2 separate regions of the Homo sapiens genome follow, and region 1 is linked to region 2. Evidence: fine-mapped expression QTL. A gene starts in region 2. The other region holds a variant in brackets. All regions are shown on one strand. Distances are between the middles of the regions.

Region 1 (5,381 bases), 22 kb after region 2:
AAAGAATAAGATGAACTGATAATCCCCAGGCTTTTTTGACCTTTTAATGTTTTCTATCCACGGGGAAAAAAATCTCAAAAACCTATTCATCTTAGGCAAATCGCAATACCAGGCAATATCCTAGGGTTTTCAGGGTTTAGACCCTTTAAATGACTTTAGGAGAGCAAACTACATTGTCTATAACTCCTGGATGATGAAAAAAACTGTATAAATGTCAGCATCGGACCTAGGGTCTCGTCTGTAAGAGGAAGATGAATGCTAGAGAAGTGAAAACTGCTCATTCATCCAGTCATCTACCCACCCATCCATTCAATAAAACCATCCACCCATCCATTCTTCCTTCCATCCATTCAACAGATACTTCCTGGGCACCTATACAAGAGCTTCTCAAGAAACCGGGCTTTGTCTCCCGGGCTGTGTCCTCTACAGGTCTAGCACAATAAGCACAAAGTACATGCTCAAAAACTTGTTGTGGTCAAAGACTTTGTTCTTGAACTTATGTCTCTAGGCTCTCAGAGTGGGCGAAATGACTCCTAAACTTTCTATTCCAATTGCCAAGATAAACGCGATAATCTTGCAAGAGCGTCCTCATAGCTAACCTATATTGCTCAGCTGCAGCTTAAGCTTAATTCCATCTTTCTGGCCTTTGAATGGAAGAGAAACCAGTCCGGACTGTGGAGTCCTTAAGAGAAAGAATGAACTTTACACTGTAAGACACAAGACTAATTACTTTATTAGGTGCATTCTATAAGTTGAAGAGGAGAATTTTTGGCAAATAAATAAATAAATAAATAAATAATCAAACAGAGACTCTGGGGCCCGAGGAGCTCAGGAAAACGGAAGCGGAGTCTTTGCATAGTTCTAAATGAACAGGAGGTGGCAGCAGTAGGCAACGCGGATTCTCGGCGGAAATGCAGCACTTGCAAAAACCAGGGACAGAAGGCTTTGAGAAAGAGGAGAAGGTCAGAAGGTGACTAACTATTTCTTTTTCGTAGAGACCATGGTGTGGAACATTCGTCCTCTCTACCAGGGGCAGGATGCCGCGTCCTACATGATCTGCCTGGGCATCCCGTACCCTGTCATGCCCGCCTGGGAGGCTCCCTTGTTGCTGCCCATCTGCAGGCCTATTACGTTCTGTCCCTGGCGAAGCTGCTCCTCGGAAAAGCCTCTCCGATTCTGCTGGGCTTTCCTGGACAAGGAAAGTGAGAGGGAATAATGTCATTATGACAGTTTTCCAATCCTTTTCAAGATATGCAATTAGACAGGCTCTGCTGGGGGTCCCCAAATAGATCAGCAGGTCCTACCCTGAGCTGTGGTTATGAGCTATGGCCCTACTCTGAGCTATGGCCCTACCCTGCACTGTGGACCTACCCTGAGCCGTGGCGCTACTCTGAGCTATCTCTGGCCCTAGCCTGAGCTGTGGCCCTACCATGATGCATGAGCTCCCTATCTTTTAGAAGCCCAGGTGTTTTCCAGAATTCCAGCAAAGAGTAGGGCAGAATCAGTGGCTACCTCTCTGGGGAATTCACTCTCAGCTTTTCTTGTTTCTCTTTCTCCCCACTCTCCCTTCTTCCCCCACCACTTTAGGCCATCTCAGACTTCTAAGAAGAAGCCTGCTTCTTCTTACCCTTTCTCTCACAGCTACGTCAAGCCTTTGTGAAAATTAAAATTGGTTCTTCTTACAAAGCACATCATTAATCCCATTCCCCCTTTCCCTGTATAGGGCCAAGATGAATATACCCTTTTAGAGCCAAGGGACCTAAGAGTTAATGAGGGGAAATGTCGCACTCTAGATTAGAGGTCTGCAAACTTTGGTAAAGAGCCAGATAGTACATAATTGTGGTTGTGTAGCCACATGGGAACACGGTAGTTCACTAATAATACAGACACTAAAACCAGGGTTTCAAATGGCCAACCTCTCAGAAGTTTTCAGGGCGAGTGTTCTTTAAAATGACATAAGCTGGTAACTTTTTTTTTTTTAATAACTGTCAAGGAGAAGAAAAGGGGATGCTGGAAATGAATAATCAATTATTTGCCACAGGGCACTCTTCTACAACTAAATTACCCAGTTTAAGCTTCCTGCCTACCCTACCCCCTGAAAAAAAAATCATTTTAAAAAAAGACCCTTTACTGAGAGATAACCATATAATTTGTCATCCGGACTAGGACGCTGTTGAGAGTGAAAGAGAGTTCTATTAATAGATATACTGGGACAACATAGATATTAACCATGACTGTTCCAAACAAACATGACATATTTACCCTTTATTAAGTACACAAACAAAAAAGAAGGAAGGAAGGAGGGAGGGAGGGAGGGAAGGAGGAAGGAAGGAAGGAAGGAAGGGAGGGAGGGAGGGAGGGAGGGAGGGAGGGAGGGAAGCAGCCAGGCAGGCAAGAAAGCTCAGAGCTGGCTTAAGTCATAATAAAGCCAAGTTCAGACATGAAGCCACCTTCAAGAAAGGCCATCCAGTCCTGCTGAGCCTCAGGAGAAACAGAACCTGGGTGGAGCTGGGAGGTATCTGGTAGAAAAGGCCCAACCATTTCTGCTCTGGTTAGGTTACTGGCCTGTACAGAAGCATCAGTCTTTCATTGCTTTGGGGAACTCAGTTGTGGAGACAGCAGTGCTTGGTCCTGGGGCTTTGCACATAAAGCCTCTGTAGAGTTCCAAGGCTTCAGACCCTCCCTCTGGTTAAAATCGCCTTGTGGTCCAGGGGGCAAGGAAGAGGCTTTTACCTGTGAAACCAGGATGGCTCTCCCCGATAGCAGCCATCATCCTTGGTGACTGCAACGCTGCCTAAAGCCATCAGGGTCCTCTGCACAGCTGCCATGTCCTTCCCTGGAAGCCAACAAAGAG[C/A]TTAAAGCCAAGCACGTGTCAGAGCCAAGGAATGCTGGAAGGATACGGCTGGACACCCAGGAGGGAAGTTCTGATAGAAGGCTGCAGGTGACCAGATTCAAGGGAGCAGTGCTATCAAACACCTCCCAAAGTGGCCCTAAGACAACCATACCCAAACTTCTCAGAAAGGAACAAAAAGTAACCTGGTTAATTATTCTCTATATGGTACATACCAGAGATACCAAGTTTCTAATCCGTTCATAGTTGCTGTATAAATAAAATCATCCATGTGCATCAAATTGAGTATTCACTTTGCTCTTTGGGCCAGAGGCCTGGCAAATGAAGAACAGCAAATCAACACAGAAAGCACTCAATGTGACACAAGTGATAGGGCCTTTATTTTGTGCCGCTTGAAAACAGCTAAATGGAGACAATAAACAACTGGCTTGTGTGTGACAGAGAGGAGAGCAAGGGAGAGGGATGTGCAGTGTGGCCCCTGCACAGTGGGATGGGGAGCCCTGTTACCTAAGCAGCCCAGTGACCATTAACCCATGGAGAAAGCAACTGGGCCTTACAACTCAGCCTTTCCTCCCATTCTTTCTCCTTTCTTCTCTTCCAGTTGACTGACCTGTCCTAAACTGAGAAGATGCTACTGAGGGGGTGGCCTGCAATTTAGAATCAGACCAAAAGTCCATGCAAGGCACCAGTGTGGAATACAAAAGCTAAAAAGCATAGGGTTAAAAGGGAAGGCAGCATCTAACCTGGCGGGGAACTGTGAAAGTTAAGGGCAAATATTAAGGCTCTCTTTAGACCTGGTGAACCGTCTGCAGTTTTTTGGCCCAGCTGCTGCAGCTCAGTCTCTGGGGAATACAGAATTACAGGGGAAAGGCAGATGGAAAGTGAGAATGGAGTATGAACTGTAATAAAATAAACAATTAAGGCCTTCAGAGGAAGTCCAGCTCAGGATCTTCATTTATTCGAAGAGGAGAGACAGAAAGCTGATCCTCTCTCCCCTCTACCCCCACCTCCCATGTTAACCACAGGGTGATTGCCTGAATCCTGAGGCCCTGTGGGACTGGTTGGTGAATACAAGGATAAAATGCTGTCAATGGATAGTCCCCCAGACTCAAGGAATAACTGGGGTGGTGGAGAATGAAGTATTTCAGAAGCAGACAGAAGGGAGAAGGCATAAGGAATATTCAGAACTAAGAAGAAACACAGAAGTTGTTGTTAGAATGACTCTTCCACAGGTGAAAGCATTTCTGTAATTGTCACCATATAATGGGACACTTTTTAAAAAATATAAATGTAGTAATGATATTCTGAAGGTTCATTCTGTGAAGAGATAGGGAGAGGACTTGCTCTTAGGCAGTGAACTATTAAAGGGAACCTAGAGAAATAAATGAGCAAAGGAAGGCTTAGGTTAGGGTATATCACTCATCTCTACTGTTTACAAAGAGCACCCTGGATACTTGTTTCTGGTGGTTGGAAAGAGCTATTCTGATATGTCCAGGATCTGGGAAAATGTGGGGCCTGACATCCAGCAGATCACCCACAGACACTACCCTGGAGCAACGGATGAAGAAGCAAAGTTTTATTAAACTATAGAACTAGACTCCTTCAAAGTAGCTAGTTCATCCCTGGTATCCCTGCATCTAGAAAATTCCCAACACTTAGTTCCCTACTTAGTTCCCTTTGTCCTTTCTGGGTTCATGTAGTAGTCTATATAACACTTCTTATATATAAGACTATATATAAGAACTTATAAGAACTAACACTTATATGTAAGTGTTATATATAACACTTCTTATATAGACTACTACATGAACCCAGAGAGGACAAAGGGAACTAAGTTGCCGGCTAAGATAAGATATCCAGGAGCCTAGAACTATCAACACAACTCCACCCTCATCCCAGGAGAGTGGAAAAGGAAGTGATTACACTTGAGAAAGAAGCCACTAGGGAAGCGGGCATTATTTGACAGGAAGAAATTGGAATTTTTTCCTTAAGAAACTTTCCAAAGCAAGATATTTGATGTAAATTATAGGGTAGACACTGTATATGTCATCTCAACCTCATGGAATTGGGATTATTCCTCCTCATGTGTGGACGAGAAAACTATTTCAAAGAGGTTAATTAACATGCCCAGAGTCACCCAATCAGTTAACAGAGCCCAGCTCTAGATCAGACCTGTCTGAATGTAAAGCCCTTGAACAATCCACCATGCCACTCTGCCATCTCCCATGGCACCCCATTGCAGGCTGGATGAGGAGCACATTCCTCAGTAGGAACCAGCGATCAGGGATGATCTGAAAGGGTCATGATGACTGTTTTGTGCCAGGCCAGAGGGGACACTGAGGGGAATAAAACTGGAGCACAGATTTCAGGCCCTGTAGAATCAAGGGCACCAACCTCAATGCCCATAAGTCTTTGAGTGTTTTTGTCTAGGTTTCTCCATGTCTTCATCCAAACAAGACTGAAACAAAGAAAAGCAGTTAGGGCCTCACTACTGATGTTCTGGCCAAGTGATATCATTTGGATGTTTTGT
Region 2 (5,381 bases):
ATTAATTTAGGGAACCAATAAATGTCCGTGAAATCTTCACAATTTATGTTCTTCTGCCATGGCTTCAGCAATTCCCTCCATTCAGGGTCGCTGACTTCCCGCAACAGTTTCTAGGTTCTTTCCTCAACTCTCCAACTCTGTTGAATAGATGCTGTGGAGGAGAGGCCTGAATTTCATGGGGTAAAGTAGATTAGAGGACTTGAAGGTTAGGAGGTTAAGGTTAAGATTCTATGTGGGTAGAATCATGTGTGTACACAGCCCCTCCCCCCTCCTTTTTTTTTTTTTGACAGAGTTTTGCTCTTATTGACCAGGCTGGAGTGCAATGGAGTGATCTTGGCTCACTGCAACCTCTGCCTCATGGGTTCCAGCGATTCCCCTGCCTCAGCATCCCAAGTAGCTGGGATTACAGGCACTCACCACCACACCTGGCTAATTCTGTATTTGTAGTAGAGATGCGGTTTCACCATGTTGGTCAGGTTGGTCTTGAACTCTTGACCTCAGGTGATCCACCCACCTTGGCCTCCCAAAGTGCTGGGATTCCAGGTGTGAGCCACTATGCCTGTCCACAGTCCTTTTAGTATATGTGTGTGTTTCACATGTTTGTATTATATTGTTTTTCTCTCACAATCAATTATTTCTGGGCTGATGCAGGATTGAAAATAAGAAGATAAGTGAGTTCCCCACAGAAATGAATTGATTTCCTAGTTACAGCTTCATGACTGGGTGGTAGGAAGGAAAAGTAAAGGTGATATGATAATTTGCATAGATTGTACAAATTTGTGCAATTTGTAACTGCACAAATTGTTCGTAAAGCATGTGTGTTTACATACGGTTGTAGGGTTGTGGGTTTATAGGAATTAAATATGTTTGTTTTGCCATTGCCAGCCGCTGCCATTGCCAGCCACAGTTTCTCAATTATAAATGAAATAATTATTTAAAAGTAAATGGAAGAATGAAATAGAACACTCATTAGATTAGAAAATTGTTGGTTTAAGTGTATTGATGTGCATAGTGTTATGTGCAAGAGTAAAAAATACATTATTTAATTGTTTCCCTTCCTCCTCTTTTATTTTCTTGTCTACCCTCTGCTATTTGATGCTGTGAATTCTTTAATAATGTATTCAAGAGTTTAGCTTCATTTAAGGAGAGATTTATACAAGTCAGGGTAACTAAACTCCAGAGACGAAATAGCTTTTAACCACACATTCTTTTAAAGGCAACAATATGGAATGCCAATGCCAAAGAAATAATCTCTCTTTTGCACTGTCCTTAAGAGTTCTCTCCTTCTCTTTTCCTCTCCCTCACTCTTCTCTTCAAAATTCATGCCCTCCAGTCTTTAATCTTGCCAATTAATGGGATAATACGTGGCCACGTACACTCTGAATTATTCATGGCCCCTTCATTCTTTTTGCCAAACACCTTGTCAACCCCTGGAGTGAAGTGTTGCTTGTATCCTTTCTGGTGAAATTGAACTAGACCAGACATCATTTAATGTGGTGTCCTGCAGGAATGAGGACTGGGTTTCTAAAGAGAGAAACATTCCATTGTAGAATGAGTTGTCGATGGTATCAAGCTACTTTCAAGTGCTCCCCCAAAAGAAATAAAGAAACACGCAGAAATGCCAGTACATGTTGAACTGACAAAGCCAAGTTTGGATCTTTTAAGTGCAGAAACACATTATAGGCAGTCTCAGTTAGCACTGATTAAATTTTAAAATGGAATTTGTGTAGAGATCAGTACAATTTCCCTGGAGTTTTAGAAAAACGGCTACAAATCAATTGCCAAGTACAGCACTTTATAATAAGCTCACATTTGTAAAACCCATTAATTACCATAAGAAGATAAAATATTTTATTATTGTTTCCTTTATGTTTATAAGGTCATACAATCTCATTTTACTAACAGGGTCAACAATAAATGGCATTCAAGTAAGAGAAAGTTTCTCACCCTGTACTTACTTTCAGGTCAGCAGGTGCGGCTGAAACATCGCTGTTTTCTTTGTCCATTATTAGGCGTTTTGTGTGTGATCATCCAGGGGTGTCTCAAAGCCAGTTTTTGCCCCTTATATGCTCTCTTGAGAAGAATTGAGAGAACCGTCACCGCATTCAAGCTAGCTTTCAGAGGAGTGGAATCAATTTACCTCCACCGGGTTCAGTTCAGAAACTGAAGCCGCCTCATTGCTATATTGTAAATGTTAAAGGGACCTAGCACTCAGCTTTGCACCCCAAACTCAAGGATTCTCAATGTAACTTTCATAGGAGTCAGGCCTCTCAGAGTACAGCCAGCCTCAAGGCAAGGTTTTCTTATAAGAAACACAATCCTACAATCCAGTAACATTTAAAAATCATTATAATTTTTTTCTTGCATCTCCTAAAGAATATGAAGAGGTCTAATTTACAACCCTCAGCACCACATCTGAGAAGTCCTCACACCTCATTTCTCTTGCGTGGCATCTCTTGCCTGCTCCAGGAGACTCACTCTTCAGTCCTGCTCTCAACTCTCCAGCCATACTCTCTGAGAACTCATAATCCAAAGGGACTTTTTTCCATTTAGCTCCCCCTACTTCTTGCAGTCAGTCCTCAGTAAACCTGGGGCCCTTTCTGCTGTAAAGCCCCTGTTTCCATCTCTCCCATACTTCCCAATGTCAATCTGAATTAGATCCATGGTGGGAAGAATAATCCAATCCTGAGGGGCAGTGTCAGAATTTCTCTTAGCAGACGGGGAGAAAAAGGCAGGGATTGCTGGAACCTCATCACCCTGTGGGCACTGGGTGTCAACAGAAAGCTGATCTGTCACGCTTTAAAGGAGAAACACTGTTCTGCTGATCCAGACACAAACTTCAGCATCATTCACGGGCTGTGCATATGGCAAGTGAGAAACTGCCTGCTGAAAGTGGGGAAAGATTAGTTGAGTTGCTTCATACCTGAAATTTGATCTAACTTGGGGAAGATGAGACAGAATAACAAAAAAAAAAAAAAAAAAAAAAAAAGAATTAAGTCATGTACAAATTCGCCTCTTGGGTTTTGTTATTTATTATTCACATTGATGAAATTATTAATAATGGTTTAGACTTTATAATATTACTTTTAATGGCTCATCTTTCCAGTATTATTTCTCTACCTATTTCTAGAACTAACTCATATTTCACCAATATAAGTAAAATTTGTATACTTATCGGTGGCCATTGACAAAGACTCTCTTCTTGACCAAAGTGTTGTCAGGTTACTCTGAGCTCTCTTTTCAACTAGACCTTGTCCTTGGGCCTTGTCTTTGGCCCATCTGGTCAGTTTAGCAGGAATCCCCCCGCCTTGATATCTGATCACCCTTGATTTTGCTTTCTTTTTCTTTTCTTTCTTTCTTTCTTTCTTTTTTTTTTTTTTTTTTTTTTTGATTCAAGAGTGGCCTTGAAATACCCTTGATATCTGATCAAGTTCTTTATCCCCTACCCTTGATATGTAAGTCCTTGGCTGCCTGTAACAAGAATCCTGATTGGTCAGTTTAGCAAGGATGCCCCTTGGTGTTTCCCCTTAGTAATTTTCCAACCATGGACCCCCTCACTCTCTTCATTGACTACTAATCCCCAGCTTTCTTTGCTGTATTTGGAACTGAGTTCAGCTCTATATCGAATTCACTTTCTCCCGTTGCAACAGTGCTGAAGAAAATCTGTCTTTACAGCCTTTAACTAGTGTCCCCCCATCCTTTTTTCCCTTTCACACCACCAAGTGTGAAAAGTGGCAGCAAAATATCAGGAGGCTGTGTTAAATGTACCAAATTTAAAAGCAATCATAAAACCAACCAAAGGCTGCTTTTTCACTATCATCATGCCAGCAATTCTAAATAATGTCAGTGACAAAATACTCCTCTCTAAAAAAAAAAAAAAAAAAAAAATTGCCATGAGTTCTAAACAATCACTGCCACTACAACTGTTTGAATAATACTTATTTAAGTGTATAATGAGCAATTCCTATTATTCATTTTTTAGTAAGTGATGAATGTCATGCAGAAATTAATTTGGAAATCTCCCAACTGTAAAGTTGGTCTCAAACATGTTGTGGGTAACAACTATCTGGGGCCAGTGGTGCAGGTGGTAAAGGAATTTCCCAAGACAGTTGTAGGTAAAGAAAGGTAGATTTATTAGAGAAAGTAAGAAAATACATTGCAAGAGAGCAACAGGCAGATCAGCAAGAGAGGAGCTGGCTGCGAGGAGACAAAGGCTGGCTCGGGATTTTACAGGATGGTGCTTGTGCTCAAGAGGGCCACGTGGAGTGCTGATAATGCCAAGGTCACAATGAGCTAACTTGCATTTTTCTATCAGTCAAGGGTCTGGTGATTAGTCGGGTGCAGGAAGATTGTGAGTTATTTGAGTTACTTGTGCAGGAGGGCTACATGTCTTGGACCATGAAGAAAGGCAGACTTACAGCTCATTTGCTTTCTTCTTTTTGCTTTCCCCTGCTTCCACCAGCCCGACTCCTTTTCCCTAATTAGGACTCCACAGAATACAAGATGACTGTGACACATGTTCATTTCAAGAGTAAGCTTCTAATGGTCTGGAATCATTTGCACATACTTAGGGCAGAGTCCTTGCCTCCAGCAATCCCTGTGGGATTACATATTGCTGCATTTAAAGGGAAGGTTCAAAACAAGCAATAATAGCACAATGATTGTAAAGACCAAGAAACAGAATTTCAGTTATTTCATTTGTCCTTCTATGTGACCAATGAGTTAATTTATATTTAAAATTTAATACAGTTACAGGGTATGAATTGCAAGGTGTAATATTTTTATATGTAATATTCTGTATGCAGTATGTATTTTGTTAATTTTATTTTTGCTAGCATAATTATATATACAAAGTTGACTAAAATTTTTCACTTTTTTTCTCATCAATATTATTATTAGTTTTATTTCATGATTCCTCCTGAAAACAATTTTACTGTATAGGAGAAGAGATTGTTGAGAAATGATCCACTCCAAGGAGAAGCAGCCCCTGAGTAGCTGGGCAGCTTCTGTAGGGTCAACAGTGTGAAGGACCTACCACAGGGTGTCGTTGGCACCGCCTGGTAACTGGTGATTCCATCGGCCAGCAGAGCTCATACCCACATTCCCAGATTAGTCCACGGGGTCCAGGTACTACCTCGACTGTGGCTCTTCCAGATGCATGGAGGCTGCACCACCGCCCATGCCCTGAGTGCATGGTATCAGAGGCACAGGCCATACTTCTGCTGGAGCCAAGTGGTGCAGAGCCTGGGCCACTGCTCCAAGTAGCTGGGCCTCCCCACAGCTAACTATCCAGAATAAGTGGTAGATAACCTTCCAACTGGTGTATCCACATCATTTATCATGGTTGGGCCAGTTTGGAAGTGGAAATGTCCATAAGATGG

Which allele goes with the higher level. Alleles are on the strand shown, and positions count from the first base shown. SD is a standard deviation of normalised expression in the study named.
In carriers of allele A in region 1, the expression in prefrontal cortex of the gene that starts at base 2,116 in region 2 tends to be lower than with C alone (large effect, 0.94 SD a copy in CommonMind).

Evidence for each region. PIP is the estimated chance that this variant, and not a neighbour inherited with it, causes the effect.
Region 1: its variant is the best candidate, but not a certain one, in a credible set for the expression of TMPRSS7 in prefrontal cortex (CommonMind, PIP 0.51).

The regions. Positions count from the first base shown.
Region 1 is chr3:112,009,218-112,014,598 of GRCh38, reverse strand. TAGLN3 (transgelin 3) reads right to left here. Exons shown (of 5, transcript NM_001008272.2): 4 at 2,734-2,836; 5 at 714-1,189. The coding sequence ends at 1,048. Among named protein-coding and RNA genes, the nearest start is that of TAGLN3, 13 kb to the right of the region's middle. The variant C/A (reference allele first, on the strand shown) is at 2,855.
Region 2 is chr3:112,031,471-112,036,851 of GRCh38, reverse strand. It overlaps TMPRSS7 (transmembrane serine protease 7), which reads right to left and starts at 2,116. Exons shown (of 18, transcript NM_001395507.1): 1 at 1,959-2,116. The coding sequence starts at 2,006. It also overlaps the pseudogene LOC124906250.